2 linked regions of the Homo sapiens genome follow. The protein of the gene in region 1 interacts with the protein of each later gene in a pairwise test. Each region holds a gene or a part of one and is shown on either strand. Other genes may lie near its edges. The genes, in order: PELI1 and PDAP1.

The links.
Region 2: the proteins of PELI1 (region 1) and PDAP1 interact in binary tests that used the Homo sapiens proteins (3 or more experiments, as listed by UniProt).

What each region holds. Positions count from the first base shown.
Region 1 is NC_000002.12:64,102,659-64,106,683, forward strand, and holds part of PELI1 (E3 ubiquitin-protein ligase pellino homolog 1), read right to left. Parts: intron 2,173-4,025; coding exon 2,043-2,172; intron 1,940-2,042; exon of another isoform or gene 1,899-1,939; coding exon of another isoform or gene 1,896-1,898; intron 1-1,895. UniProt on the Homo sapiens protein: E3 ubiquitin ligase catalyzing the covalent attachment of ubiquitin moieties onto substrate proteins. Involved in the TLR and IL-1 signaling pathways via interaction with the complex containing IRAK kinases and TRAF6.
Region 2 is NC_000007.14:99,396,386-99,398,597, forward strand, and holds part of PDAP1 (28 kDa heat- and acid-stable phosphoprotein), read right to left. Parts: intron 1,629-2,212; coding exon 1,477-1,628; intron 356-1,476; coding exon 297-355; 3' UTR 1-296. UniProt on the Homo sapiens protein: Enhances PDGFA-stimulated cell growth in fibroblasts, but inhibits the mitogenic effect of PDGFB.

The sequences.
Region 1 (4,025 bases):
TTATTAAACCTACTCTAAGACTGAGAATAAAAACTATGTCAAGTTACGTTTGAGTCTCACTGGCCTAGAACGCAGGGTTTTAACTACTCATCCCAGATGACTGCCAGACTAAATGCTTAATTTTCATCATGACCTCACAAATACATTCCTCCAAAATTTAAAGAGGAGGAGTCAATCTTTTTTTTTTTTTTTTTTTTAAACTGAGACAGGGTCTCACTCTGTCACTCAGGCTGCAGTACAGTGGCATGATCTCAGCTCACTGCAGCCTCTGCCTCCCGGGCTCAAGTGATCCTCCCACTTCAGCCTGCCAAGTAGCTGGGACTTCGGGGCATGCCACCACGCTTGGCTAATTTTTTGTATTTTTGGTGGAGATGGAGTTTCACCATGTTGCCCAGGCTGGTCTCGAACTCCCGAGCTCAAGTGATCCGCCCACCTTGGCCTCTCAAGTGCTGGGATTATAGGTGTGAGCTACCGCACCCAGCCAAGAGTCAATCTGTGATCCCTAAGATTCTTATTGCCTAGTAAAGATGAAAGATGAAAAAGAGATAACAATGAAAACATGAGGGCATGGCAGAGTAAAATAGGAAGAAAAGTACAGAATATGGTATTACAGAGGCAGGGATTAGAAATATTTTCCCTGATAGTGGTTTTCAACCAGAGGTAGTATTAGCAGTCTAAGGGGCATCTGAAAATATGCTGTGCATTTTTTGGCTGTTACGAGGATTTGCAGGCTCAAATGGCATTTTGTGGGTGAAGGACCTATAAATGTCCTGTAGTATGTGGGAAAGTACTGAACAATGAAAAAGTGGCATACCCAAAATGTCAAGAGCACTCCGGGGGGAGCTACTGTAAGAAGCTCCTCAGATTCAATCAATCTGAGGTTTACTTCCACCACCTGCTTAGTATATTCCTTCTCGCCAAAGGAGCAAAAAGAAACTGTCCCTTTTCTGCACCAACTGGCTCCCAAATAGTAACAGAGGAGTCCTAGTCAAGGCCTAAGGATTCTTTCACAAATCAAACTGGATATAAAACAAAGCTGAAAAGCCAATTACCTTCAGACACTGAAGCTGCAACCTAAAACCACATCATATGCCAATTTTTCTGTCTCTTGTTTATTTAATTTACAAAGATATGCTTCAGATGGTATAATATTAATGTACATCCTAGGGCTACTTAGCTAAAGATACAGGTACTTCCAGGAGTCAAAGAACTCTTTCTAATTTTTCTTATTTGCTCATTACAATATTAAATTCTTTGTAACACAAAGTCAGTGTTATAAAATTGGAGGCAGATGAATTCACAGAAAATATAAAGATGTGAAATTCCCCCTCCTTGTCTGTCACTCTAGGAAAAGCCCAAGTATCCTGAAATGGTGGTCCAGCTTCTGGAAATTTTGTTAGAAGAATACAAGGGGGCTAGAAGCATGAAATAGGCTAGGGGGTTGAGAAGTTATATTGTAGATGCAGTTGGATATTGCCTTCATAGCTTTGATTCAACTTAATAATTATTGAGGTCTACTTTGTGCAAGGTACTATGCTCAAATATATGAAGTTATAAACCAAAAATGAATACAACCAATACAAAGAATCTTAAGTAAAGACCCTTAGTTTAAAAATTACCTCATCCAAATGTGCTTCTAATACCTGAATACACATATTATACATCACATTCTTCATCCAGTCCAGGGAGACCCCTCTAGTAACAGAGTGGGAACTTCCCACTTCTCAGGGCAGACAGCTGCATAATTCTAAGTACTAGATAAAGCCCTGTCCCCCATCCCACCTCTTTTAATAAGGAAACAGAGTGTTTCCTTCTAATTTCCACCCACTGATCCTGGTTTGTCATTTTTTTTTTAAAAGTCCAATTCCCCTTCCATATGGCAGCTCTTCAAATACCATGTCTCCAAAGTCTCTTCTCCAATCCAAACAAAAGGCAATTTCTGAAATAGAAATGTAAGGGGAATGCTAGAGAATACAAACAACACATAAAAGTCTTTCAAATTCTCCAAGTTAATTTATGTAGCTTTTTTTTTTTTTTTTTACCTTTGCAGCCTGAGGAGTACAAGCAATATGCACAGTGCTGGGCTTCACCCCATTTGCCTTAGGTCTTTTAAACAAAGCAAACCTACTTTTCCTCCTTCCTCTATCGCCATTTGGGAGAGACCCATTATACCTGATGGGGGAAAAAAAGTATAGGTGATCTCTTGCAAGAACTGCACAATTATAAAACAAATGTTTGACTTTGCCTTGCAGAATCAATTCCCAATTAATTATCTATTAACACATTATAATTATTTAAAATTCCTTTGAGCAACTGTTGATCTCCATACCAGGTGCCAGTGTGTGAAACAAAATGAGATTCTTTTTCTGGCTTCATTCCAAGTCACAGAGAACCTTTTGGATTATACACAGATTCGTGTTATCTCTATTTTTTTCCTTCCCTCTTTTATGGAAGATAATTAAGAGCTGATTAATGGCATGTCTGACTCCTTATGACTCATTCTGTTTTTTTAAGGTGAACTGTTTGCATGTGCTAATACAACCTTTAAAAAGTACAGTATGTATTGTTTAAAACACAATCTCCTTTAATTGTGAACCAAACACTTTAAATAGCTGAACTTTTGAAGTAAGGAATTTTTAGATTTGTTAAGTCTTAGCTACCTGAATGTACAAATGCACTCTCATTATGTTAGCAGAACCTGTCCAACAGACATGTTTGCTAAGTAGTAAACATACTTTTGTTGTTCAGATCTTATGACCATTTCTCCATAACATGTACACATACACACACACACACATATACATCCTAAAGGTAAGCAAGTACTAAACCAATGGAAACAAGTTAAAAACAAAATAAAAATATTTGGGTGTTTACTATGTACCAGGCACTATTGAATGCTATCCCATACACATCACCTCACTAAATCTACCCTTGCAAAAATTCTACTAGATTGAAATCACTGTCCCCATTTTTGTACATTAGGAAACAGACTCAGAAGAATTATATTCTGAAGTGACACTGGCAAAGCCAGAATTTGAATTTAAGTATGTTTGTCATGTGGTTATGTCATTCTTTACTGCTTCATTGAGGCATGAGCAGTAGCTTAATAATAATCTTTCCTCATTCACCGTCCACCTCCCCTGCCCCCGCCCCCTGACAAATCTTGGGTTTGATGATCTACCATATGTAGTTGGTCAATCTAGGGGGAAAGGAAGCAGGGAACAGGGACAGTTTTGAGGCTGGAGGAGGAAGTGATTATAAAATGGCCTGTAATTGTGGCTGGCAAGGAAGAATGTTTTAAAGCTGAGAAGAGAGTTTACTCAATGACTGCCATATATAGAAACTACATTGACCCTTTATAAAAAATAAAATACTTTGTATTGGAGAAAGCCCTTGGTAATGTTGCTAGCCTTGCTGTAAGTCCAAAGTACAGCCCCTTAGCTAATAATTATTTTAGCTATTTTAGGCTTTGTATTGCCCCCAGACCCTCTGTCGATTCCTCACTGCCCCTTCACTACTGTCCTCTGAGTTGCATGACTCATCCCACTTCTGGATCTTGCTCTTTAGTCCCACATTGCGTTCCTGTAGTTCAAAGCTCTTTTCTAAGCAGCAACAGCATGAAACCTTGTCCAGCTTCACTTCTAGAGGGTTGAGAAGAAAAATTATCTGCATTTTAAGACACCAAGTACCAGACACAGAGACAATTACTGTTGCTAATGATTAACTGAGGAACCCATAGGCTAAGACTGGCGGTTTAAAACCCTAAGCTAAATATTAAACTATTCTTCAAATGACTCTCAAATTTCCTGCTAGAAGAATTTAATCTGGAAAAGTTTTTGGTAGTTAAGAGCTGTTTGTCATTGATACCATTAAAATCTATGTGATTTGAAGTTCTAATACTGTAGTTACTATGCTAAATTTATGATCTTTTAAAGCTTTGTTTCTGAGAAAAGAATTTTAAGTCTCAAAGGGCCTTAGATGATCTTATCTGTCATTTTTACAGACAAGGAAACTAAGGCCCAGGA
Region 2 (2,212 bases), on another chromosome or scaffold:
AGGCACCCCCCAGCAAGGGCTCTGAATTCTAAAAACAGCAAAAACATTCAAATGGTTACATATGAAATGCTGTCCTGCATCTTTCTGTCTCAAAGATAGCAGCTACCCCTCCCCCAGTCCCCCCCCCCATCCCCCAAACAATTTCTGTGCCAAGATGAAGAGGAGGCCCCAGGCCATGGGGGGCTCCTGGCCATGAGGGGCTGTTGCAGCGGCGCCAGGGCACAGGGTGGGCGAGACACAGCAGAGGTCCTGGCAGCGCGGCCCAGGTCCCCGGCATCTCCTCCCACGGGTCGCAGTTACTTATTCAGGGAGAGTGACTGCATTCGTTTTCCTGACAATGTGGCATCGTCTTTTGCTGAGGGGTGGGAGAAGGGCAGGGGTTAAAACAAAGCAACCCCCCACCCCCTCCCAACACACGTGCCAGAACCCTAGAACTTTAGGTCTGAAAGGCTGCAGAAAACATTCTGTGCAACAGAGAAGAGCCGAGGCGTGGGAGAGGATTTCTGCTGCAGCTGTAACCCCGGGCCCCCCGACATTCCCGACACGCTTCAGTGGCCAGACCACCTTATAGAAAGCTGTTCCTTCCACAAAGCCCCACCAACACACACTCTTGTGGGCAAACGGAAACTTCTCACCCCACCTCCCAGCAGAACCCTGTAATTCTAACCTCCCTCCACGGGTTCTGAAGTCTAAAATTTAAACATTCCAACAGTTACATGTGAAGTCCTTTCCTGCTTGGGGTTTGTGAAGCAGGGTTGAATGGGAAGTTGGGATCACTGGATTTCTGGTGCGGGTGACAATGTCCCTGAGCAATTGGTTTCCCCTTTCCAGGCCTGCTTCCTCATGGTCTGGTGAGGAGGCAGGACAGATGGACATGTAGGGGCTCTCACAGACCCCCGGGAGATGGAATGTTGCAAGTTGAATGCTCCTATAAACTGGACCAACTCCCATAGCCACTCTGGCCTAGAGGAACCTCCACCATCTCTGGCCTGCCTGGAGGGGAGAGCACAGGAAAAGGGATGCCTGGGCTGGATGTCAAGCCAGTCTGCACTGCTGTGTATCCAGCTCACCCTCCCAAGCCCTGCAGATGGACAGCGGTGACCTCAGGCATCTCTCCTGGGTTCCCAAGGCACCAGAGACCTTAGTGGGACCTGTGAGCCTCAGGCAAGGTCTGTACTAGGGGCATGGTTTCCTGTGACCTCCCGCTGTTGGGAGCAGGAGTGACTGTCCACCTACTGTGGACGGTGCTCTGCTGAGACTTCAACCTACATCCGACCCCATGATGTCGCTGGACCCTCCTGGTCCCCGAGGGAGTGGCAGGCACAGGGAGGGTGGCCCTCTCCTGAACGACCTCCTAGGCAGCAGTCACTCCTCACCTCATTGTCACCTCGCGGACAGGGACACGAGTTCAGTGCTTTGTGGCTGGCCCAGGACCAGAGTTGGGGCCTGTCCCTGCGTGCGCAGCCCAGCCCTTACCTTTCCTTTCCTCTTCCTTCTTCCGGGCAGCCTCCTCCCGCTGTTTCCGGATGATGGCCAGCCGGGCCAGGTCAGCCTTGGCTTGCTCTGTCTTCCCGGCCAAGTGCATTTTCATGTAACGCTCTTTTGCCTTCTGCTTCTCAATCTCTTCTCTGTGTGGATAAAATGGTGTCATGGGGACATCTTTCCTACCACTGTTTGCCAAACTGGACGGGAGTCAGAATAAAGGCCAAGGATTCGGCCTAGGGCCGAGGTGGAAGGGGTGCCCTGGCTGTGAGTCCCTGCCTCCATGAACCCCCTGCTTGGTGGACGTTCACCAAGCAAGTGAGCAGGAGGGAGAGGCCCAGGGAGAAAACATCTGCGATGTCCAGAAAGCCTCAGAGGGAAAGGGGACAATGTCCAGCTACAGCAGGGAGGGGAAGATGCCTGAGGGCTTCATGATCAGGCTCTGGCGGCCATGGAGAGAAGGGGGACCAGGCCAAGAGTGTTCCAGAGAAGATGACCAGGAGGATGAAAGCAGTGGGGACCACATCCTACAAGGAAGGAAGGGCTGGGCATGGTGGCTCAGGCCTGTAATCCCAGCACTCTGGGAGGCCAAGACAAGAGGATCACTTGAGGCTGTAAGTTTGAGACCTGCCTGGGCAATATAGCAAGACTCTGTACAAAATAGAAAATTTAAAAATTAGCCAGGTGTGGTGGCACACATGGCTAAGGCAGCATGGCTCCCAGCTACATG